Regions from separate parts of the Homo sapiens genome. Here regions 1, 2, 4 and 5 are each linked to region 3. Evidence: fine-mapped expression QTL. A gene starts in region 3. Each other region holds a variant in brackets. All regions are shown on one strand. Distances are between the middles of the regions.

Region 1 (5,108 bases), 75 kb after region 3:
CTCTTAGTTTTAATAAGTAGTAGCTAGGGCCAATTTCCATTTACAGTTGTTGAATGTTAAACAGCATTGGAGAATGTTAAGTTGTTAGATAACTGACTAGTTTTCTCAAACCTCCTCTGGTAATTAACCATGCCTCCTACTCCCTTTGCCACACTCCAAAGGGAATATGCTAATCCACTATTAGCTTTACAGCAATGGCTTAATATTCCATTTCAAGAACTTGTGCACAAGCATTGTGTAAATTGATTTCATTCCATTGGGAATTCACACCCAGAAGCACTGCCCTGACATGAGAGTAGGAGTGAAGAGGACCTCACAACTCTCCCAGCTATAGGGCCCTGCATGATACATGGTACATGAAAAGGGATCAGTGCATGTTTGTGGACTGAATGAAAAAATAACCACTGTAATTCTCTACTATAATGTTTTTGCTCACAAAACATCCAAATTGATTTAATCCAAAGGAGATGGAAAGTAATGCTGTGTGTGGGAAAACATGAATTCAGGCCTGTTAGTTTTTCTAGTAAGGTTCCTTGATGTGCCTTTCAGGAACAAGGCCTATGGGACTCTGTGACTCAGGAACACAGTACTTTTCCTGATGGCAAGGCAGCATCAAGATCCTCTGGGGCTTGCATTCATTCCTCTGGAGGCTGGATGTCACTCTTTTTTATTCTCCCATTCCTTCCTCACCTTGTAATACTCATCTGTTTTGCTTTTTTTTTTTTTTCCTAGGCAGACTCTTGCTCTGTCGCCCAGGCTGGAGTGCAGTGGCACGATCTCAGCTCACCGCAACCTCTGCCTCCTGGGTTCAAGTGACTCTTGTGCCTCAGCCTCCCGAGTAGCTGGGATTACAGGCGTACACTACCAGGCTCAACTAATTTTTTGTATGTTTAGTAGAGACAGAGTTTCACTATGTTGGCCAGGCTGGTCTTGAACTCCTGGCCTCAAGTGATCTGCCCTCCTCAGCCTCCCAAAGTGCTGGGATTACAGGAGTGAGCCACTGTGCCTGGCCTGCTTTGCTTTTTCTTATTTGGTTCTATGGTTCTTATATTTTTGTTAGTGCAAAGATCTCACATATTTAAACTTTTATGAAAAAAATCCTACACAGCTACATTAAAAAACATCACTCTGAATCTCTCTCATGTCTATTCAAAGTCACACAGATTTGCCATTTTTTTTTCAGGTGGATTGGAAGCATATGCTCTGTAGATGGTTCTGTGTCTATGGTCTCTTTTAGTCCTCACTACAAGTCATGAAACAATTCTGAGGCATTGTTATTTCCATTTGATGGATGAGGATACAGAGGCTTAAAGAGGTAAAAGTCATTTTCACTTAAGGATAGTATCTTGGTCTTGAACAGAGATGGCAGGAAATAGAAGCAGACAGGCAGGATGCTATGTCTGGACAAAATACTTTAGAAGTGGACATACCTTTATGGTTAATCTTCCTCTTATGATGCAAGAGGTTTCGTTGTGAATATGTTAAAAAATGCATTTATTTTACAGTCTTAATATCTCTGAGACACTCCAGGGTCTTGTGTACTAGCTTTTATGTAATACGATCTTTTAATGACTGCCTCCCTTACTTCCTATGTCACCACTTACTTTCTAAAGTATTTTAAGTCCCAGCTCAGATGTTACCCCTCAGAGATGCCTTCTAAGATTACTCTGGACCCTCCAATCACTCTCTATCCCAATGTCCCATTTCATTTCTTTCATAACTTCTTTTGCTGTTGAAAAATCATATTTTTTATTGTGTGTATCTCTACTGGGAATGGGAGCTGCCTAGGAGAATGGTCCTTGTTTGTCTTACTTGCCTCTCCATCCCCAGTCCTTAGAATAGTGCCTGGATAAATTATTGCATATGCTTCAAGATGCATACTAAGGTAAATGGCATGACTCTGATCCTTAAATACTGAGGGATTGGCAAGGGCAAGGCACTGGTGTGGCCCAGTCACAGACAGATGGAAGATGAATGGCAGTACTTCCTTTCTTTGCCAGCCGTTGGATTGTTCTGGCTGAGTGCACTAAGGTGGGTATAATTATCTCTTATGGCCTGCCCAAACAAGTGCCCAAATCCCAGTATAAAGCGATCTTTATCTAGGTCTCTATAGGCATTGACTGGGTTGTTTGAAGCCAAAGCAGCCTCAGTACATACTCATAACTCCTGGGACATTAAATAGA[T/C]CCTAACTAATCCTAGGGATTTCTGTTTCAATATAGGATATGTGTAGATTGCTTTGAAAATGACCAAACTCCTGGATCCCTGCAAATGACTGTACGTAGTGATTCAGATAAAACCCTATTCTTCACCAGGTGCTATGAGAATTGCTTTAATACCACTTAATTTCATCTTTAAACACATATACGATTATTAGAGACATATACTATTATTATCCCCATTTTTAGATGAGGAATCTGAAGCTTAGAGAGAGTAAATGACTTGCCTAGGTCCCACTGCTAGTTGAGGAGGGGTACAAACCTAGCTGACTCTTCTCAAAATTGATACTTACTGCCTAATTGGCAAAGATCTGATGTCCCATTCTGCTGTGGCCTAAAACCTTTAAGAAAATTATGTTTATCAGCTATGAATGAATGCTCACAGTTCGAGGATGGGCCTAAGAGACATTGGCAGACACTTGGTTTAGAAGTTAACAAATAAGTCAAATGAAATCATAATTTTTAAGTCCTTAAAAATAGAAGTCTTATGCAAATCAATTTTTGAAAATTGGCTATATTAATTGATTTGAACTATATATGTACTCTGGAAACAGACAGACTTGAGTTCAAAGCCCAGCAGTTACTTAATGCTATGTAACCTTCAATAAGTTTCTTATTCTTTTTAGATTGAATATGGATTCCAATACCTATCTCACAAAATTTATGCAAGGAGAGCAGCCAGTTCAGTGCTTGGAGCACATAGAAGGGGGAACAAAACATTATTTTCTTTCCTTTAAGTATTATGGTTGGGAATTTTTTGGTTGTGAAGTTTTGTTTTCCTAAATTTCATGTTCTCCCAGTCATGTTAAAATTTTATGTCTATTCATTTCATTTCTTTCCTCAAGTATAGTTTAAAGATCACAATTCATTTCTTAAGACTTGTGCATCATTGCTCTGGTAAATCTCTTGGTCTTCATAGTAGTTGATAAGGTTTACTTTTCTTCTTCATTGAATCCTCCCACACCTCATCCCTGACCAGAGTGTTTCTTTTTGGCTTTCATTTTACCTCTGTTTATCATTCATGAACGTATGCCACAGCTTCTTTTGACATTATACTTAAAAAGTCCCCCCAAAGCATGCTTTTTAAAAGTTGGGGCACAGCGACCTTGCGAGAACATTCTTCTTGAAGGGGTAGTATTAGACCCTGACCAAATGATATCACCTTAAAAAGCTGGATTTTTTTAAAAGTCATTTTTTATGGTCATTGTCTAGAAACACTTGTGGTAAGAAGTAAAAATTCAAGCATGAAGTAGCTTAGTCATGACCTATATCAGCAGCAAAAACAAGGGCCATTAACTTGATTGGAACATATGAATCTGAAAGTGCAGCTATTCAAATAAAAATAGCCAGCTCTATGAGTCCAAGCAGGGCAAAAAACTACCTCCAACAGGAGAGAGACAATGTAAAGGCAATAAAATGTAAATTGTCTATAATATTGCTCTCAGAATAATGTCAATTTGTTTACACTTGACAGGCTACATTTAATAAACTTATCCACAATTTTTGTTCTGTTTATAAGACAAAACAAGCTGGATAGCTTGCATATTTGTCACAGACATTTCAGGGCATATGTGCAAAATTATAATAAACATACTCTTTTTGCAAACTCCTACTATTACTTTGTTCCTGAAAGCTCTGGGCTGCCAGGCTATTTTTGCATTGCCTAAGTCACTCCAAGGCGAGCCAGGTGCCATGGTGCACACCTGTAGTTCTAGCTACTCAGGAGGCTGAGGCAGGAGGATTGCTTGAGCACAGGAATTCGAGATCAGCCTGAGCAACATGGTGAGACCCCACCTCTACAAAAAGATAAAACAAAAAAACCCAAAAACTTACCAGGGTGCAAAAAGGCTGCCATCAGTGCTAGAACCCTAGTACTACAATCCTTCTGACTCCATACTGTCTAAAGGTAGATTACTCAGTTTTCTCTCTGTATTCTTGTCTTAGGTGCTATTGTGCTTAGAGTTGACTGTGAGGCAAGCCTCTGCATCTGTACAGGAATAGAACTACGATACCAAAAAGTACTTCTGATCTCCTTTTATTGGTTGTGAATAAGCACTAGTATCCTCATTTTACAGATGAAGAAACTAAATCTCAAAGGTGCTAAGTAAGTTACTGAGAGATGCTGAGTCACACTGATACTAAGTGAGTCATGCTGTTAGTGGGATTGTGAGTAGCAGTCACACTATCTGTAAGTTGCAAACTAACTGGACTCAGGGTGACCAATTTTCCCAGTTTGCTTAGGACGGAGGGGTTTCCTGGGAAGCAGGACTTTCCATACTAAAACTAGGACAGTCCCAGGCAAACCAGGATGGTTGGTAACCCTAGATGTCTGATTTTAGAAACACTACACTCTTTATCTTTCTGCTTCAGGCTCTAAAATATTTGGCTCTCCTTAAAATCTTTTGCCGTCATATCCTGCTGTAATCTTCACCCACCCACCACTTCTTCTGCTAGTTTAGTCGGCAGACTGTGCTTACCATTGCATTTGCTGTGAGACTCTTACTACAAATTGCAGCCCATTTACCCTCTTTTCTGGGCCACAGGAAATCGCGGGCTGACAACTCAGTGTCTATGTGGTTTTCTGAGCCTTTAGCTCTATTGGATTTCTAGCCAGAAAATTATTATTCTTCCTTTTTGGTGACAACTATGTTAAAAAGAAAAACTCAACAATTCTCTTGATTTCAAAGATGACAAGGTCTATAAAGAGGGAAAAAGCTAAAGACCTCTGGGCATTGAAATTCTTCCATCCAGATACTCTGATGCTATAATGATGGTTCCTGTTAACCATCAAATCATCTGTCAGGGATGCCTCAGCTGCACTTGGCAATTTCTCTCAGCAGAGGAGCATCCTGATGGTGAAAGGCTCCTGGCACCTGCTCTTATTGGCCTTGC
Region 2 (5,108 bases), 84 kb before region 3:
CATTTATCTAGAACATAGAAGATACTAATTTTTGTTCTATCACACAGTTAAATTAGTCTGATGACTATGAACTTGAGGAGGTTTGGTTTTACACTTGTTTAAAGTGAGTTTGTTTCTGCTTTGCCCTTAGTCTTAGGGGGAATTCTTAGTTTAAGGACACTGTCTTTACTTGTAAAGTATGACACACAGAGTTTCATTAAAAATCTCAAGGCATTTATTTATGAAGCCCTATACTCGGTCTCCCCTGTGATGGACAGGATTCAAACTCCACATGCTGCCTCTGCTGTGGGGTGCAGCAGCTGAAATCTTCAGCCTTCCTGCTGTTACTTTCCAGCAGGTTCCTTGGAGTCTTCTTTAAGCACACACAATTCATGGGTCAGCTAAGGATTCGAGAATAATTTAAATGCAGTTACTTTCCAGCTTGTGGTTCTCTCCTTTCCAGGAGTTACCTTATTAATTTCCAGTTACTGTCCCATCCTCAACTGCATCCTGACACCTCAAGCTGACAAGACCACGGTGATCTGCTTGAGTTCCAGTCACTCCACGTTGCACAGACTGGCAAGAATCTTCAGAGAACTGGTAGGAAACAAGCCTATCTCACGAAGTGTGGTTCCTTCTTTCAGGGGTGGAATACTCTCCAGTTTTTGCCAGTTTTTTATTACTCTCCAGAGCCTTCAAATATCTTTTCCAAACTTAATAGCTCTTGTTTATGGGAGGTCTAGTCCCATTCAAACTAGGGAATCCCTAGTTTGGTTTTAAAATATCTTATCCAAACTTAATAGCTCTTGTTTATGGGAGGTCTAGTCCCATTCAAACTAGGGAATCCCTTAATAAACTTTTAGTCCACTAAACATTTAAGATTCATGAAGGCAAAGGCTGGGAGAGGTGGCTCACGCCGTAATCCCAGAACTTTGGGAGGCTGAGGTGGGTGGATCACCTGAGGTCAGAAGTTCGAGACCAACCTGGCCAACAAGGTGAAACCCTATCTCTACTAAAAATACAAAAATTAGTTGGGCGTGGTTTTTAATTTTAGTCTTGATGAAGTCTAATTTTTTATTTTTGCTTTATGTTTAGTGCATTTAGTGTCCTCTCTAAGCTATCTTGGTGTTTCCAAAGATCCCAAAGATGTTCAACTATTTTTTAAGCATTTCAGAGTTTTAGTTTTTACACACCTGTAATCCCAGCTACTCGGGAGGCTGAGGCGGGAGAACTGCTTGAACCCGGGAGGCAAAGGTTGCAGTGAGCCAAGATGGCGCCACTGCACTCCAGCCTGGGTGACAAAGCGAGACTGTGTCTCTCAAAAAAAAAAAAAAAAAAAAAAAAAAAAAAGATTCATGAAGGCAGAAACCTTGTTTAGAATAAGAAACAATAAATATCTGTTCATGTATACCCTATTTTAGTTTGCTAATTCATTTAGGATTTTTAAATAAGTAAAATTACTTTTTGGTTTTTTAAATGCTTCATAGTACTTTGTGTAATAAAAGCACTGTTGACATATTTGTGCTCTGTGCCTATTTAGAATATATTGAGTCAGGGAGAGAGTTTCAATTTCTTGATGTTTTTTGGTTTAATCAGTGTTTCTTAAACTTTTGACCATTTAAATTTTCTTAGAAATTGATCTTATGTTGATAGTAAAATTTATTACTACAAAGCTCTGTACACAGTACTTTCATACAATTTAAAGACATTTTTTCCTATCTGTGATCTTTAAGTTTGCTTTAGACTGCTTAAAACAAACATATAATTAGCAAATAAAGGTTTTCTCTTCCTTCCTATTTTCTTTATATCACTGATTTCTATCTGTTGCACTGTTGCATTCACTAAGAATTCTACTATAACCAGTAAAAGCACACATTTTTGTCTTGGTCCTTGGTGCTATAATTAACTTTGACATTAAATTTGCTTTTGAAAATTTTTAAACAGACACCCTTTACCAGGTTAAGGAAATTCCTTTTCTATTCATTTAGTAAAACTTGCCTATAAAACTAGTTCTAGAGTCTTAATTTGAATGCTGATTCAATTTCTTCAATGGCTACTGATTTCATCCGTTTTCTAATTCTTCTTGAATCAATTTTAGTAATATAAATTTTCTAAAAAATAATCCAATTCATCTACTTGTATAAAAGTATTAACATAAAACTGCTTATAATATTCTCTTATGACATTAAAAATTTTGTTTATAACTACAGACACTTTTGCTCTTTTTATCTTCTCTTTTTCTTCAGTTTTGCTTTGAGTTTTATCTATTTTCCTGAGTTTTTCAGAAAGTCAGCTTTTTGTTTTATTGAATTTTATTGCGTATTTTCCTGGTCTTTACTGCTACTTTAAAATTTACCCTCTAATTCTTTTCCTTAACTCTTGAGTTAAATGCTGAGCTTATTTATTTTCTAATTTTTAAATCAATGCATTAAAGTTGTAAACTTTTCTAAGTATTCTTTCAATGTATTCTAACAGTTTTAATATGTATTACTTTCACTATGGTTATTTAAAAAATATTTGGTCCCATTGTGATTTCCTCTTTAATTCAGGAGTTATTTAGGAATATATTTCTAAACATACAGGTTTATTTTTTTCTTTTATTTTAATTGCATTGTGGTAAGAAAACACAATCTGAATGATGTACAGTCTTTGAAATGTATTAAGAGTTCCTTTGTGATGTGAAACATAATCAATTTTTATAAATGTTCCACATGTCTTTGAAAAGAATGTGTATTCTTTGTTGAAATAAGTATTAAAGGTGTGTTAAAAATCTCCCACTGCAACTGTGGATTGGTCAAATTTGCCGGGCAATTCTCCACATTTTGCTTTGCATGTATTTTAGGCTATGTAATTAAGTAAATGAAATTTACTGCTGGTTTATTTTCCTGGTAGAATACCCCAATTGTTACTAGTATTTTGTGCCTTAAGCTCAATTACAATGGATGTTAATCTTCCTACACTAGCTTTCTCTTGATGAGTAGCTCCAAAACTAACCTTTTCTATCTCGTTTTGTTTTTGTTTATTTTTAAGACTAAGTCTCATT[C/G]TTCCACCCAAGCTGGAGTGCAGTGGTGCATTCATGGCTCACTGCAGCCTCAACCTCCTGGGCTCCGGTAATCCTCCCACCTCAGCCTCCTGAGTAGCTGGGACCACAGGCAACGTGCCATCATGCCCAGCTAGTTTTTTGTATTTTTTGTAAAGACAGGGTTTCACCACCTTGCCCAGGCTGGTGTCGAATTCCTGAGCCTACCTTGGCCTTCCAAAATGCTAGGATTACAGGCACGAGCCACAGCATCTGGCCCATCTCCTTGTTTTTAGACATTCTGTATTAGTTTTGTTTTAGATGTGTTACAACCTTTCTACTTGGGAGAGAGTTCTCATTTTCCTTCTTTCCTTTTTTTTTTTTTTTTTTTTTTTGAGACAGGGTTTCACTCTGTTGCCTAGGCTGGAGCACAGTGGCATGATCTTGGCTCTGTAACCTCCACCTCCTGGGTTCAAGCAGTTATCATGCCTCAGCCTCCTGAGTAGCTAGGATTATAGGCGCGTGCCACCATGCCCAGCTAATTTTTGTATTTTTAGTAGAGATGAGGTTTCGCTATGTTGGCCAGGCTGGTCTCAAACTCCTGACCTCAAGTGATCTGCCTGCCTCAGCCTCCCAAAGTGCTGGGATTACAGGCGTGAGCCACCACATCTAGCTTCCTGTCTTTTTTGAATATATTTTTAAAGTTCCTTTTCCTCTGTTAACTGCTCAATATTACTCCTATTTTTAATCAGTGGCTACCTTTTGATATTTTAACTGAAATGCTGAAACACACTTTTTTTCTAACAAAGTCCAAGTAAGAATATTCGGTGTTTCTCCTGTCCCCTCAAAAATCACAAATAGGGTAGAAACAATTTAAAGCTTTATTTTCACTAACCTTTTACTAAAATTTAGCATTTCCTACACTTATAAACAACAAACCATGACAGTATTTATAGCACTGGCCACTCCACCACTATTCAAAATTAGAGATATTTTTATGTTACATTTCAGTTTTTACAGATATCTAAAAATACTATTTACACGTAAAATTTTTTCTTTGAAATTAACCACTTGATTTTGCTAATGTGTTCATAAATAAGCATATATTACATTACAAATATTAAAAAATATCTGATAGCTGTACTTTAACATAATTGGTTCCCTTTGTAATGCTATGTATTTTTTTTAATGAATTTAAACACATTATTCTGGGAAAGAATACATAGGTTTTACCAGAATACTAGGTGGCCGTGGCATAAAGAAAGTTAAGAAATAATTCCTGACAGAATACATCTTAAAATGCCTGGAGTAAATTTGAGTTCCAACTTAATTTTGTTTGGCTGTTTTTCTCAGCATTCAATTTTTTCACACATTCTGGAATTTTGGTTTACAGGTTTATTTTATGGAAGTTTTTTGGTTTTCTCTCTTTTTTTTAATCCTCTCTTCTTCTATGTTCCCCTACTTGGGTCTACATTCCAGAACAAGTCTTAAATGATGGTTCAGAGTATTACAGATCCTTTCATGGAGTCAGCAGGTGACATAGTTATTCATGTTTGTTAGGTTATGCCCTCTCAGCTCTCTAAGCTCTCAGCCCCATATAAATTCAGGCTGTGGTTGGTGGAAGATTTTTCAGCCTCCTGTCTGGAGCAAAATTGCCCGTCCCTAGTCCTTGGCTTCAAGCAGGGTGCTGGTATTCAATCCTCTCTTCCCCATGGATAAGGTGGCCTTTGTTGATTATAGTGGGTTCCAAGGGAGAGGAATGAAGTAAAAATGCCTTTATTTCACCATCTTAAGCAAGTTTTATACAGACAGTTCTCAGTATTGTTTTTACTCCGTAACTTTAGTTTCCCTCTTCTATCCAGATTTTAAAAAATCATGTTTCTAATTCCATTTTACTAAGAATTTAAAATTTTTATTTTAAATTCAGGAATGAATGCTGATTTTCTTTTTTACCAAGATGCTTCAAAGCATCTGTGTACACTAGATAATCATATACTTTTTCTTTTGACTTGTTTACATGGTAAGTTAATTTAATATTTCCTAATACTGACTCATTTGTATGTCTAAAAGAGCTACATTTAATTATGCATATGATTCTTTTGAATCATTT
Region 3 (5,108 bases):
GAGTCACTCTGTGAAGAATTAATATTGGAGTTCCCTAAATATTGGCCAATCAACCTGCTTTTCTTTGTTAACAGTGATTGTGAATATTCAGTTTCATTAACAGAGCTAATTATTTTTGAAGCCTTTTAAAACACACACACACTTTTTACTGTATAGAGGACAGTTTCATAAATTACAGCTAGTATCTGTTCTAACAGGCTCAAGGCGACAGCTATTTCTCAGGATGCATCCACCACCCATTACAACTACTATATATTCTAAGTTACTCAATTCCCACTATTGTTATAGAACCACATCCACCCCATACTATTGTTACAGCCCTTTTTCACTATTATAAACCCACATATGGTTAGAGACAGAAGAGGACAAAAAACATGCAGCCATAAAGAGGATTTCTCAGTTCCAGGGTGAAGGGTTCCCTTTAATCTCTGCTGATATAGTTTAATGTTCTGCCTGGTTCACTACCTCCTTTTTTTTTTTACACTTTGAAACCTGCTGTGGCTTGAGACATCAACCTTTGGCATAATCACCTGCTGGTTTTATAATCTGCGGCCCACACTGTTGGAAAAAGGAGTTTCAGTCTTTGCTTACTAACAATTTGTGTTCCTCACTGAACACAAATTCCAAAAAGATAAAAGCTTTGATAGGCACCTACCAGAAAGTCACTTTGTGTACAAGTACTAAAGAATGCACCAAAACAAATTGAGGGGTTCACAGCCTCTTATCCCTCGAGGCAAAAGACTTCTAGTTCAAACACTGATGACACAGGTTTTAATGAAAGAAGAGCCCATTTATTTATCTATTCTGATCGGACATCACAGAAATTCAATGCTTATTATAGTAGAGGACAAAGCTGGACAATCCTAATCACCCTAAATTAAAGATACCTCTCAATTTCTTCTCTCTCCTGGGCCATTACACCAAACCTAGAGCAGAACTATACCCACCTTCAGGGCAGAAGAAACAACGTAATAGCTTATTGATCTCTGGTGTAGACCCAAACCCACAAGTCATCAGGCAAGCAGGGATTACAGCCACTTGATGCAGCTAACAATCAAAAGTCGTGTACTGGGTTTTTGGTCCCACACAAGCACACCTCTGGCAATTACCCCTACATAAAAAATGGACCAAACTACTCTCCTCACCAAAACAAACAAAAATACTACTAATCAGGTACGGGAGCAACACATCCTTAATTGTACCAAAAAGAATTTCTTGGCTGTCAGTAAATGCCCAATTACGTTCATTAATTCTTCATTTAGCGTCACTTGCCAGGTTTCAAAAGCCACCATCACATTCAATTCCGTAGATAAATGCCTTCAAAAGAGATAACACTTGCTGACAAATTGGCTGTTGACTAAACCTCACCACCACCACCATTATACTAGTCAAATCAATGTTTGTGGCAAATGAATTAGACTTTTTATAAGTAAAATTTACCAAAGTAATGATATCTTCTAATTCTTTTTCTGGAGAAATCAGAGCAACACTCCAAAAAGGAAAGGTTAAAACTGAGCTCTCTGAAATACCTATTCAGTGTGTTTAACTGATGAACTAAGAACGGTGAAGTCAGAAGTGTAACTTAATTATCTTAAGAGATAGATGTTCTTTGCAATTAATTCCATTCAGCTCTTGCTCAGACCCCAACGCAATATAAAGCTGTCCGCACAGTCTTCAGCCTTCTCTTAACCCGAAAGGAGTTATCTCTAACCCGATCCATCGACTGGAATAAAGTAACAGTGACCACAGCGGCGGACGAGGATGGATGAAATTACAATTGAACTAGGAGTCAGGACAGATGTGTACACCCTAACAGGAGAGACTGAGGTGGGGCTGGAAACTATTTTCTGGCCTTCTCCCGCGTGCTGCTCCCGGGGAACCAACAGGACCCTGCACGCCCGGATTCGGCAGAGCCCTTGCCCCCGAGGTGGAGTGGGGAGAAGTCAGCGGGAAGCCTTTTCAGGGAATCGAGTAGGACAAGGGCTGGCGCGGTGGGAATCTCGCCGGTGAGAGAACTTCCTAACCCCGGGTTGAGGGGGCGGGGGGAAGGACCGTCCCGGCAGCGGCGGGGGCGAGCTCCTCTGCTTTCTCACAGTCAAGCATCTTTGTGTGTGGATTGTGCCAGGCTACGGGTCCTGGAGCAACTGGCCGCGGGGGCCCTCGAACCCAGGTCGGGAAGTCCGCCCGCCACCCCCTCGCTCCGCCGGGGCCCTCCCGGCCGGGCCCCCCAGCCCCTCTCCACCACCCGAGGGTCTGGAGGTGGACGAGTGGAGAAAAGCATCTCCGTGTGGGGACACCCGTTCCGCCACATCCACCCCCTCACCGGTCTTTGTCCCGCCGGTAGCCAGGGTCTCCGCGGGAGTCTCCAGGGGAACCCCCGTCCTGGAGGCCTCGGGGCCCGGGTCGCCTCAGCTTTGTTCGGTCAGCGGGGCGCGGGGACGCGGACACTTACCGTACACCCCAGCGAGGAAAAGCAAGAGCAACGCAGACCTCCACCGCGGAGACTCTTTTGTGCTCCAGCGACAGGCCATAACCACAGCAGATGGAGAGAGAGAGGAGGAGACGGAGGAGGAGGGAGGAGAAGCTGGAGGTAGACGACGCCGACGCCGCCGCCGCCGCCGCCGCCGCCGCCGAGCCACCGGCTGCTCCCTGCGCTCTCCGCGGCTGCGGGAGGGGGAAGGGAGGGGCCGCCGCCGCCCGCGCGCGCTCCCTCCTCCCTCCTCCCTCCGGCTCGCCTGCTCCCACCCCGGGCGGTGCGAGAGCCCCACGCGGGGCGGCCCTCCTGGGGGCAAGGGCAAGGAGCTCGCGCGCCAGCGCGAGACGAGAGGGTGGCGGACGCCGGACTCCGGCCTCGCGCCGCTCGGGCTAGCCGGCGCCGCCACTCGCCAGACTGAGCGCGCGCCCATCCGTGCGATCGGCAATCCCCTGGCCCGCCTGCCTCGGTTCCCTCCCCGCGCTCCGCTGGACTTTCCAAGTTTCGGGCCGATTTCCACGCGACGGGAGCCCAAGGAGCAAGGCAGCGCCAATCGATGACAGAGCGTGCGAACGCCGGCTGCTGGATGCCCAGGGGCTGGAGCGCGGGGTGTGTGGAGGAGCACGGTCGCTGTCCGAGGGCTGGGCTCTGGCCCAGCGGGTGGGGGGAGGGGGGGTGGGATACCAGCTGGGAGGCTGAAGGTGGTTCCGTGTTGGGGGAGGCGTGGATGGTCTGAAGCTGACAACTTGGGAGTTCCTTCCTCTATCCGGTACCCCCAAGTCTCCACTTGCTGTCGGCGCGGAGCTTCGAGTGGGGGTGGGCTCAAGTTAGTGCGGCCAACCTGGCAGCTGGTCGGTCAAGGGGCAGTGTGGACTCCCACGCTCAAGGTGCCCGGAATGAGTCGGGCAAGGCTTGTGCAGAGCCCCTCCAGTCTGGCGTGGAAGCGCCAAGAGGTCATTTGACATCTCACGCTGGGTCGGGTGCAGCTGGGCCAGGATGTTCGGCAGGGCTGGAGCCGACTTTCAGGGTAGATATATTGAAAGGAGGATTCGCCCATCACGCTGCAGTTTCCCTAAAGCTCTTTTCTCACTCCCAGCAAATGGGAGTCCTCCTTTACTTAGATCCCCAGAACACTTTTCTAAGTACGTCTGTAGTGACGCTGGCACATCAGACCTTACCCCCTGTGTTTTTAAAGCGTTTGTCTACAACGTCTTATTTATATTAGATTTTATCGTTGCCCTTTGCAAGCACTCTCCATGCTATTCATTGAAGACCTACACTGCATCATGCTGTCCTATTGACATAGGTTGTCACTTTTTAATCCCAAACATCCTTGTGAGATAAATATTACCCATGTTTTATAGAAAAGAGAGAAATTAAATTACTCATGGCAAGTAAGTTGTTTGAAACAGTTTTTCTCATTCCAAAGTAAAGATTGTTGCCCCTATACCACAGCAAACTCTCTAGCACAATGCTTAGCGCCTAGTAATGTGTCGGAGTTGGTGCCTGCCAGGGGGTTCGTGGTCTCCCTGACTTCAAGAATGAAGCTGCAGACCTTCCCGGTGACTGTTAACAGCTCTTAAAGATGGCACGGACTCAAAGAGTGAGCGGTAGCAAGGTTTATTGCGAAGAGCAAAAGGACAGCTTCCACAGCATGGAAGAGAACCCCAGGTGCTGGCTGGTGGTGGCCAGCTTTTATTCCCTTGTGGTCCCCTCCCATGTTCCATTTCTGTCCTATCGGAGTGCCCCTCTTTCAATCCTCCCTGCGATTGGCTACTTTTGGAATCCTGCTGATTGGTGCGTTTTACAGAGTGCTGATTGGTGCATTTTACAGAGCGCTGATTGGTGCATTTTACAATCCTCTTGTAAGACAGGAAAGTTCCTCAAGTCCCCACTGGACCCAGGAAGTTCAGCTGGCCTCACCTCTCAGTAAGTAAATGTTAAAATTTAAAACATACTTTCTGGGGAATACATTTAGGCTTTTCCTCAGTCTCCTGCCGATTTGCCCCCTTTTAAGTTTTTTTTTTTAAAACCAGGAAATGCTATTCCAAAAGATAAGAGAAAAATGTATTAATAAGTATTACAAAAATCTAATAATTAACAAATCTTATATCATCTGGTAAAAAAAGCAACCAGCACTCCAAAAATGTTTTCCATTCTTGTTGGAAAGAAGCAACTTCAGTGTTTTTCACTAAACAAATTGCAGTTGTCTTTCCTAATTTTGGGATTCTAAACTCTACTTTCTTGTTTCTTAAGATTGCTTTCTCTAAATTGCGCTTCCATGAGAGCTGTGTTAAGAACAGGCCACAAGCAGAGTGAAGGAGTAGACTGGACTGCATCCTCCCCTGTCCACTTTTAGTACCATTCAAGGAATCCTGTCCCGAACACGAGACACACAGTGCCCTCATCAGTTCCTGTCACACCCCTCCCACCCCTACACTTGCTCATCCACCCAGATGTGTCTTCTCAGACTTGCCAGGTTATCAAACTTTTGGGTATCTGGACCCCCCATAACACTTACAATTTGGTGAGGACACCAAAGAACTTTTATTTATGTGGGTCATAGCTATTGATATTTAGCATTTAGAAATTAAAATAGAAAAAAAAGAATTTATTTTAAATTCATTTAAAATAA
Region 4 (5,108 bases), 33 kb after region 3:
AGTTCACTGAAGAGGCAATAATGGAAGAAAGACTAGTCTTTGGATGAGCTTGCTGAGAAGAGATGGAGATAGCTAGTGGAGAATTAAAAGCCAATGAGTGTGTATTTTGAAATAGGAAGCTAAGCTTGTTTAAGCTTTTGAGAAGGAGCCTATGGAGAGGGCAAGATGTTGAAAAACAGGAGAAAGAAGAAATAACATTTAAAGTAAAGTACTTGAGGACATGGGAGGAAATGGATTCAGGAACCCAGGTGGAGAGGCTAGCTTAGAACAAGAAAGATACTTCTTCCTTTGAAACTTGGTGGAAGGAGGTGAGATTTGGCATAACCGCAGTTCTGCCAAGCACGCTCCAAAACATCCTTCAAACATTCTCTTCCTTATGTTTTATTAGGACAGATGAAATCATTTGAATGTTTTCTTCAGGTTTTCATTCTTCCTCTGATATTTAATCAAACATGGGTGCTTGTTTATTAGTTGTGTTTTCATGTTTTTGATTTTTTTGAAGATGCAGTCTTTCTGGTACAAGCATTTGCAAATTAAGAGTTATTAAATCCGTAAGAGCTGAAAAACCCTGATTGCCAGCCTTAATTACCAGCTTTAATTCTCTCGGTTGTGTGAATGTTGATGTCACAAGGCAAATTCCAAATGTTTGCTTACAGAAGTTCTTCTGACACAGTGTTTAAGAACTGCAAAAACTGAAGCTACTGTCCTTATGTAATATCCTCTGAAGTTTCCCTGAAAATAAAACCTTTAGTTTCTGGTTACCTACAGCCTGTCTCTCCTTTCTTTCCTGCGTCTCTCCCTTCCTACCTGCATCTTGTTCTTGTCTTCCTTCCTCCCAGCATTTTATTCAGTGCCACCATGCGCCAGGCCTGGGAAACATAGGAGAATGTTAATATTGGAAATAAATAAAGACAGTATCCCTGGCAATTACCAACATTAAAGGACCAGGGAGGAGGGGGATCTGGCTGTAGAAGGAGTGGCAATATTAGTAGCACGGGACTGAAGAGAGTCATTCTGTTAACCAAAGGAAGAATTATTTCAAGCAGAGAGATAACAGTGTAGCAATGGACCACCAGACATGGCTGTGTCCTTTTGGAGGTTGTATTCCAGTGGAGGAGATGGAGAATAAATATATATATATATATAAATATAAATATAAACACAATGATTATAATTTGTGTTGTAAAGTGCTGTAAAATAAAGATAATTCTGTGGTAGAGAATGAGGTACATGTAAGGGGTCAGGCTTCTTTAGATAAGGTGGCCAGGGGATATTTCTCTAAGGAACATTTACTATCCAAGCAGAAGATGAAGAAGCAACTATGCAAAGAATAAGGAAAGAGTCTTCTTAGAAAAGGGAACAGGTCTGGCAGGGTCTAGGAATTATAGAGAGGCCAGTGTGGCTGCATCCCAGGGAGCAATGGGTTGAATAGGCTAAGAGAAAATGTTTTGTGGGGCCTTGCAGAGTTTGGGTTATATTCCAAATGCTCTGGGAAGTAAATGATTTTTTTTTCTTACATAGGAACTGACATAAATCTACATATACTTTTAAAAGAGTACTTGACTGCTGGATGAAGAGTAGATTGGAGAGGGACACATAAGAAGCAGAGAGATCAGTCAGATATTGAATGGATTAGTCCAGGTGAGACATGATGGTGGCTCAAACTAGGGTAGTGGCAGAGGAGACAGAGACAGTGGAGAGTATTCTAAGTATATTTTGGAGGTAGAAATGACTGATGGACTGAAGGCAGAAGGATTGTGAATGTGGGTAAGGAAAGGATCAGGGTTGACTTGTATGTTTCTGGCTTGTGAAACTGCCCCTTACCATGATTGGGAACATCAGGAAAAGAAGAGTTTTGGGAGGTGTGGATGGAGAAGAAGCAAAAGATCTGTACTGGATTTGTTAAATCTGAGATACCTATGAAACATCCAAATGGAGATATCAAATAAGCAGTTGGATATATATGTCTGTTTCCTGGATCTTTTAAATATAAATTTGGATGTCACAAAAAATAGAAAGTATTTGAAGGTACAGGAATGGCTTGGGGAAAAGTGTACAAAAAAAGAAAAGAGAAGCTCTGGGACATTTAGAGGTCAAGTATTGGAGAAGGAGTATTGGAGAAGGAGAAGGAGATAGTGACCGAAAAGAAATAGTCAGTGAGACAGGAGGAAACTAAGCCAAAGCCAGAAGAGTATGTCAAGAAAAAGAAGTACCTTTCTATGTGGAAAGGTGAGAGAAGTTGCTTAAGATGAGGGAAGAAAA[A/G]TGCCCACTGAATTTTCAACACAAAGATTGTTGGTGAACTTGACAAAAATAGTTTCCATGGAATATGTAAGCCATATTGGAGTAGGTTGATAAACACTATAACACTTCTTATTTTAGAATTCAAATTCAAATTATTTTGAAAAGACAAATGAATTCTAAAATAAGAATTCAAATGAATGAGAGCTAACTCACAAATATGTAAACACATGATTTTACCATTTTAGGAATATTCCTAGGAGCTAATAATGTCCTTGTGGTTTTCACATAGATCTCTTCTCTGACTACAGCCAGCTCTCAACTTTTTCACTAAATTCAGATTCAGTACTAGTTATGTTTTATGAATGACTTAAGTAAATTGACTAATAATATTGGCTGTCGATAACAAATCAAGTAGAATGATCTTCCCTTTGAACATACAGATTAAAATATAAGTTTCCATGAGAACAGAAGTAGAATGTAAGATTAATATGGGCGAATTCAGAAGATATTGAAATCCGTATCTCTAGCCCTTACTCTTACATGTGAGTATCAGACACATACTTCTACCTTGAATCCCCTGCCTGAATGACCCAGAATCAACTCAAATTCAACACAGTCTACCATGGAAATTATTACATGATTCCTTAAATTGCTCATCTTTCTCATGCAATTGACCAAACTAGGAACTAGAAAATGATCCTAGATTTCGCACTGTGCTCCACTTATTACAAATCACAGATTTCTCCCTTTCTATGTTGTAAATAATTCAATAAAGCAATATAAACATTGCCAATTTCTTATTTTATACCCTCATCATTTCTTGCTTTAATTGTGGCAGCAGCAATCTCCCAACTCGTACTGCTACCATAAGTCTTAACCCTCTTCAATCAGCTTTCTATATAGCCACCAACGTAATGTTTTAAAAACACTAATGTGCAACATGGAGACTATGTTTGACCTTGACAAGTATAGTTTTAGTGAAGTGGTAGCAACAAGAGCCACAAAGTACTGGGTTGATGAATTGTCTTACTCTGTTTCTTTAGAGTCTGATATGACTCTCATTGGCAATAACATAGAGACCAAATGCATTTAAGTTTTATACTCTATCTCCAATTTATTTTTCAAGACTTGATTCCCTGCTCTGTATCTTATCTTTTCTACATTTGTGTGTAGTGAAATTCTACACTTTTGCTATGCTGGAGTAGTTTTTTTTCCCAGAACATTTTATGTTTTCTCACACCCTCATGTTACCTTTTCCTGAAATGCCCTCCATCCTTTTTCCATCTTATTCTTTAGGGTGCAGTTTAAATACCATCTCTGTTGACATCTGCCATAGTATATTGTTGCAATTTTCATGTCATTGCGTTGTCATTACAGGAGATACCAGCTGCTATTTTAAAGTAAGAAAAGCAGGGTTGGGGGAGGGATTCCTGTGGTTTCTACTCTGCCTTACTCTTAAGATAAAAACTTTGCTAACCCCATTTGAAGGAAGCGAGTCGTTATCTCAGGGTCCCATTGCAGTTGTTTATTTGTCTACTTCCCTTGCAATATCTGAGCTTCTTAATGGCAGGGTCAGGGTCTTATTAATTTTTGTATTCCCAGCACTTAGCTCATAGAAGATACACACAGATGTAGAATAAATAACATTTAAATGAATACATAGGTGATCCCTAAGGATTAGCCTTGTTCATGCATGGCAAGGGATAAAAAGGAGGCAAGTAGATCAATGAATTCTAATAAGCATTGTTGTGCTGTTGTATTTTGAAAGATACAGCAAAGTGTCTAATAATATGAGGAAGTGATGGTTTCTCACACTAGTCAAATTTCACTATTGACCTAGTTTTTGCTGAAGTGCACATGTGGTTTTAGGGCTCACGAGTCAAGTATAGCTCAGCAGTTTTAAAGACTTGAAGAAGAGGCTTGTAAAAGACTGTGTCTATTCAGCTTACTATGGGAATAATCATTCTCTTAATTATATATTTTAAGGTCTTTTAAAACAGACACCACTTAGAAATGTGTGTGTGTGTTGGTGGGGGTGGAGTTTTAGCAAAGCTTTTATTCACCAAAAGAAGACTGGCTGTGTAGTATTCCTGGTGTATATGCACCATATTTTCTTTATCCATTTCAGAACTGATGGGCACCTGGGTTGATTCCATGTCTCTGCTACTGTGAATAGGGCTGTAATGAACAAATGGCTCATGTGTCTTTTGGTAGAATGACTTATTTTCCTTTGGGTATATATCCAGTAATGGGATTGCTGGATTGAATGGTAGTTCAACTCTTAGCTCTTTGGGAAATCTCCAAACTGCTCTCAACAGTGGTTGGACTAATTTAAATTCTCACAAGCACTGTATAAGTATTTCCCTTTACAGCCTCACCGGCATCTGCTGTTTTTAGATGTTTTGGACTTTTTTAAACCAAGGTCATGACCGTTATGAGCTGGTATCTCATTGCGGTTTTGATTTACATTTCTCTGATGATTAGTGATGATGAGCATTTTCTCATATAAACATGCAAAAAATATTGACTGAACCAGGAACTATATAAACTGACTAATAATATTGGTTATGATAAAAGCAAGAAATGATGAGGGTATGAAAGAAGAAATTGGCAATGTTATATTGCTTTATAGAATTATTTACAACATATAAAGGAGATAAATCTGTGATTTTTTAAAAAAAGAAGGATAGTAAGAAACCTAGAATCATTCTATATTTGGCTGCTTGTATGTCTTCTTTTGAGAAGTGTCTGTTCATGTCCGTTGCCCATCTTTTAATGGGGTCATACTATGCTGTCATAAAAAAGAATAAAATCTTGTCCTTTGCAGCAACTTGGATGCTGGAGGCCGTTATCCTAAGCAAACTAAC
Region 5 (5,108 bases), 70 kb before region 3:
GAAGACACATGAAAGAGGGAGGATCACTTCAAAATAAAGTCAAGCTGTCTTACAATTTGAGATTTCATAGTTTCAAAACACCTAAAAAATTACAGAAAAAGTACATATTTACAATTAGAGCTGAACTACTGTCAAAGAAAAAGTATAATTTCCTGCTCCACAGATGAAGAACTGGGTTTTTTAAAACTGACAAGAGTTGATACTTCATGACAAAAAGTAGTTGAGACTAAAAGTTATGTGAAATCTTTGACTTTGATTTTAATAAATCACAAAACTGAAATGCAAGTAAATGTCTGTTTATGTTTACTGACCACCTAACTTTATAAGACACATATGAAGGGCACAAAAGAAATAGAGAACTCATGTTCTCATGGAAATTATAGTTTTATAACAATGACATATACTTTTTAACTGAATCCAAGAAGCATATAACAGTTAATATGACAGCATACCAGATAATACAGTACATGATTTAATGCATAACAAGTAACTTTAGGCAAAGTATCACATGTTCAGTTATAGACATGGTGTAATTAAACAGAAACAAAGGCCGACCAAAAACCTATATTATACAAGTATAGAACAGAGAAGGTTATGCTTGACTATGAACAAAAGATTTCTTTCATAGAAGAGAAGTTGGTAGAGCCACAGAAAAGCATACTCTAAACTAGTTAAAAGAATTTAATGACCCAAATTCTATAGACAGCAGTCAAGCCAAGACAGACCTACTACAAAAGGAAGTGATGTGATCCAAGTATTTTGTAAAGGTTATTGAGGGAAGAGAAACCAGTGAGGCAAAGAGATCACCTAAAAAGCAATTATAAAAACTCATCTTTTTGTACAATTTTACTTTATGAAAGTTTCACGACAGCAAAATCATGCTCACTCTGTTCATAAGCAAAGGATAATAGCATATATAGGTAACGGTGGTTAGTGTCATTTGGCCATCTCATTTTTCAGAGTACTGTATAGAGTGTATTATAAAGAATATTAATTCCATTATGGCTGATGAGTACAAAAGCAATTCCAAGTGTTGAAAACTAGTAAGAAGGATTTGATTCCAATGGAAATAAATGTACTTAAAGAAACCCACCATCTCCAAAATAAAAATTTGGTAAGCAAATGGTGTCTGGATTGAATGGCCATATGGGATGACAGTAAAAATTATTCTGAAAGTTAACAAGTGAATCATTCAATACATGGAAAATATTATGCTTATGCAAACAACTAAAGGCACCCAAACATGGAAAAAGCAGAGTATGTAGTTAGATGATTAGCATAAAAATCAGGTACCTCCTGGCCTACTGTTAATTTAGGAAAATAATAGCAGTTTGAAAACTTAAAAGGCTAAGTATGACACATAGTGCTGAGGATGAGATTTCTGCTTCAAGTCAGAAATATATGGTTTCCAAGTCCAAGAACTGTAAGTATCATTAAAGTGAAGCATGTATGCAGGCCTTGGATCCACAGCTGATGATAATGTTATAAAATTACCTAACACTTATTGAACTCTTATTACCTGGCAGGTACCTTAATACTTATTATTATTATCCCTATTTAACAGATAAGAAAAAAATGGAGGCACAGAGAAATTTGGTAATTTTTCTAAGGTCACAAAAAAGCTGTAAGTCTCAGAGCTGGGATGGAACCCAGACAAGAGGCTTCATAAAAGCTGTATTCTTAACCACTAAGGCAAACTGCTGCCCACTAACGAACTCCCTATAACATCTGGAAAAATTACCAGGGAGGTGGAAGGGAGCCGTTTCAATAGCATTTAAATGACAAAAGTGGTCTATTCTAGAAAAATGAACTATTGGTCCTACATTAACATGGATAGAAAGGGTAGATAATCTATAATAACACAGAGAAAATAAGTATAGTTAGTAGTTTTAAAGCTTCTAAAGATTGATTCCTTATTTGCTACACATTATCTAAGAACTACAGGCAGAACTGACCAGCTTCTTAGTATCTTTGGTATTAAAAATTTTATAAACAGCATTCTAGAACCTACTTTTAATGATAAGAGAACATATATACATATAGTTAATTATGGGTAAGATGCTTAGGGCAAGGAGTAGAATAGTAGCAATAAGGGGATGAAGTGGAGGCTGAGGGAGACATTTCAAAGGAAAGAGCAA[T/C]GGACAGATACTTAAAGACACTTAATAATGGACAGTCTGGAAAGCATGCATGTTCAGCATAGAGTCTATGGGCCACTGAGAATACAAGGCAAGTGACCAACTGTTGGAATCTGCAAGAAAAATAAGTTAGAGTACTATAGTTGCCCTTTGTTGGACTGCCATGTATAACATAACTAAGCCCTGTAACCTGAACAGGAAACACACGCCCACAGCTAGGCAGAAATTACTTTGATTCAAAAGTCCTCTTCCTGTATCTTGACTGTGTTTGTTGCCTAAATAGTGTCCTGATTTCTCTGACCCTCCAGACTCTTTAAATGGGGTTTTCTGACTCCTTGGCACCTGAGCCAAGCTGCGTTATAATGTGAATGTCAGAAGTCAACATTTTGAGGATGGACAGAGTTGGAAGGGGACAGAGATTGAACATGAGTAAGATTTCCTTAGAATTACTCCAAATTTCATTCTTTTTAAAAAAGAAGTTAGAAAACTGAACTTCTCCCTGTATGGGAATAATTACTAGCACTTGAACATAGGTTGAGTATCCCTAATCCAAAATGCTTGGGACCAAAAGTGTTTTGGATTTCAAAATTTGGAATATTTGCGCATACATACTGGTTGAACATCCCTAATCCAAAATCTGAAATGCTTCAATGAGTATTTCCTGTGAGCATCATGTCAGTGCTCTAAAAGATTCTGGAGCATTTCAAATTTCAGATTTTTAGATTAGGGATGCTCAACTTGTAGCAATATTTACTAGTCTAAGATGGGAAAGGTTTTAACTATGACTTGAAAGACAAGAATCAGGCAAGCAGAAAAAATGATATTAATCCATCACTCCCACTTAGGACTCTCATTACTCTGAGACTTATTATTAGAAACCGCAAGTGCCATGGCAAGTAGGAAATCTTATATCCAGCTGTTTATAATTTAAATATTCTTCTGCATTAGTACCGATATTTAAGACTGAATACAGCAATATATTTATTCATATTATTCTAAGTGACATTCTTTAAGGACCAAAATATTTTACTTGGCTATCAGCTGTAATCAAGGCAGGTAATTTCTTGGTATCTTGAAGGTCACTAATGTTCAGAACAATCAAACTATAATCAAGGGTTATATGGCAGTAAAATAAAATACAAAGTCAGAAGAGGCAAAAATATAAAGAGAGAAGGAGAAATAAAAAAAAAACGGGTCATAGCACAGTATGAATGAAGATGAGGAGAGCAAAGAAACTGAATATACCCACCTAAAATGGAACTAACTAGCCAGCTTCACCCTGAAATTTCTTAGTAAGAATAATTTAGGATTTTGCTAACAATGCATAACGTAAGATGAATAGAGAAGATTCATCCTTTTATGCCTTTTTTAAAGGGCTTATGAGGGCAATTTTTTTTTCCTGCAAGGGTATAAAAATTACTAACATGGTACCTACATTTTCCTATTTTAAGCACTACAGAAGACTAAAATGCTAAAGCAAGCTACTACTATTTCCCAAATGGGAAAAATTACTAATTTTTGAAGGTTACTGTGACTCTGGCTGGAAGCATAAAAAGGTAAGGCAGAAATCCTCACTTAAGCTAACAAACTGGCCTTGGAGCTCACGATTTTGTAGGTCATCTCTATCAGCTTTGACATAGTTTTTAGTATACTCACATCTTCTATGAGTGTTCCAGTTACTGTGTCTTTTGTCAAGGGTGGTACCCAGAAATAAACAATACCAGAGTACGTTTGCATGAAGAGTAAAGAAGAACTATCATTTGCTTGGTTCTGGATACTGTATTTCTATTACTGCAGTTTAATATCAAATCACCCCCTTACTTACATCAGGCTGTTAGTCAACTGATACCCAAGTACAGTTTGCTTATCCACCAAGTGACTGGCTTTTGCACAACAGTTTCACAGTACATCCAATTAAAATTCATGCCTTGGCAAAAATTACAGATAACCAACATGTTATCAACTTTGAAGAGTTATTCCCAAAGTTACAGACTGGAAAAGAAAATGTCAAATGCTTGAACAGAGCTTGCCTTTTTACGTTCACTAGGTTTGGCTCACTCAATGAAATGGATATATCCATCAGATGAACTTCACTTCTACCATCTAAGCACTGCATACCCTGTCACAATACAACCTGTTCTGTCTATAGTTCTGGTACTCACACGTGCTGTTCTAATGCTGGAGTTATTGTTTATTATAACATACAATGAGTATTCCTTATTCAAAATCCTTGGGACCAGAAGTATTTTGATTTTTTTTTCTTCAAATTCTGGAATATGTACAGATATATACTTACTAGTTGAGCATCCCAAAACCAAAAATCTGAAGTGTGAAATGCTCCAATGAGCATTTCCTTTGAGTGTTATGTCGTTGCTCAAAATGTTTTGGATTTTGGAGCATTTTGATTTTTGGATTTTCAGATTTGGGATAGTCAACCTGTAATGTAACATAAAAATATAACATAATTATTTTGTTATAAATACATAATTGTTCAATAAATATGTGATATATAATATAAAATAGGTTACAATTATATAATATAAAGATGTTTCATATAAGACATTGGCCATGATTCAATTATAGAGTATATAATATAGAAATAATAATACCACCATTAGTTTCATTTCCAAAACTTAAAGGGAGTTCGCTACTTTAAAACTTTAAGTGTCTCAGAAGTAAACTCTGAAGGTAGACAATGACTTTAAAAATTATTAGCATCCTATAGTAATGTTTTTATATATATATATATCAAGAATTTACTCTGTCTCATATTCCCTACTCATTTTCTTTATATAAAGGATAGCTTCTTGGGTTCAAACTATGTTCTGTTTTTATATTCTGAAATCCTAAAAACCCTAATGTATTAATAATCAACTAAAATGTAATAAGGCTTCTTTCTTTTCTTCATCTGAAACATGGATGAAAGACATTTTTATAACACTGGTCAAAAGAACTAGTGAAATTCTTCTCAGT

Which allele goes with the higher level. Positions count from the first base shown, and alleles are read on the strand shown. Sizes are in standard deviations (SD) of each study's normalised expression. Not every link is listed here.
For the expression in esophagus mucosa of the gene that starts at base 2,892 in region 3, allele T in region 1 goes with a lower level than allele C (moderate effect, 0.45 SD a copy in GTEx).

What was found. PIP is the estimated chance that this variant, and not a neighbour inherited with it, causes the effect. A credible set is the group of variants that fine-mapping cannot tell apart.
Region 1: its variant is the best candidate, but not a certain one, in a credible set for the expression of LRP12 in esophagus mucosa (GTEx, PIP 0.52).
Region 2: its variant is the best candidate, but not a certain one, in a credible set for the expression of LRP12 in blood mononuclear cells (TOPMed, PIP 0.90).
Region 4: its variant is the best candidate, but not a certain one, in a credible set for the expression of LRP12 in whole blood (TOPMed, PIP 0.72).
Region 5: its variant is the best candidate, but not a certain one, in a credible set for the expression of LRP12 in monocytes (TOPMed, PIP 0.64).

What each region holds. Positions count from the first base shown.
Region 1 is chr8:104,661,051-104,666,158 of GRCh38, forward strand. No RefSeq gene overlaps it. Among named protein-coding and RNA genes, the nearest start is that of LRP12, 74 kb to the left of the region's middle. RefSeq lists enhancers at 3,751-4,950, 4,577-4,626. The variant T/C (reference allele first, on the strand shown) is at 2,184.
Region 2 is chr8:104,502,030-104,507,137 of GRCh38, forward strand. The region is part of intron 3 of LRP12 (LDL receptor related protein 12); the gene reads right to left. Among named protein-coding and RNA genes, the nearest start is that of MIR548A3, 20 kb to the left of the region's middle. The variant C/G (reference allele first, on the strand shown) is at 3,023.
Region 3 is chr8:104,586,367-104,591,474 of GRCh38, forward strand. It overlaps LRP12 (LDL receptor related protein 12), which reads right to left and starts at 2,892. Exons shown (of 7, transcript NM_013437.5): 1 at 2,453-2,892. The coding sequence starts at 2,531. RefSeq lists silencers at 2,051-2,160, 2,591-2,930.
Region 4 is chr8:104,619,036-104,624,143 of GRCh38, forward strand. No RefSeq gene overlaps it. Among named protein-coding and RNA genes, the nearest start is that of LRP12, 32 kb to the left of the region's middle. The variant A/G (reference allele first, on the strand shown) is at 2,263.
Region 5 is chr8:104,516,743-104,521,850 of GRCh38, forward strand. All of the region lies in intron 2 of LRP12 (LDL receptor related protein 12), which reads right to left. Among named protein-coding and RNA genes, the nearest start is that of MIR548A3, 35 kb to the left of the region's middle. The variant T/C (reference allele first, on the strand shown) is at 2,139.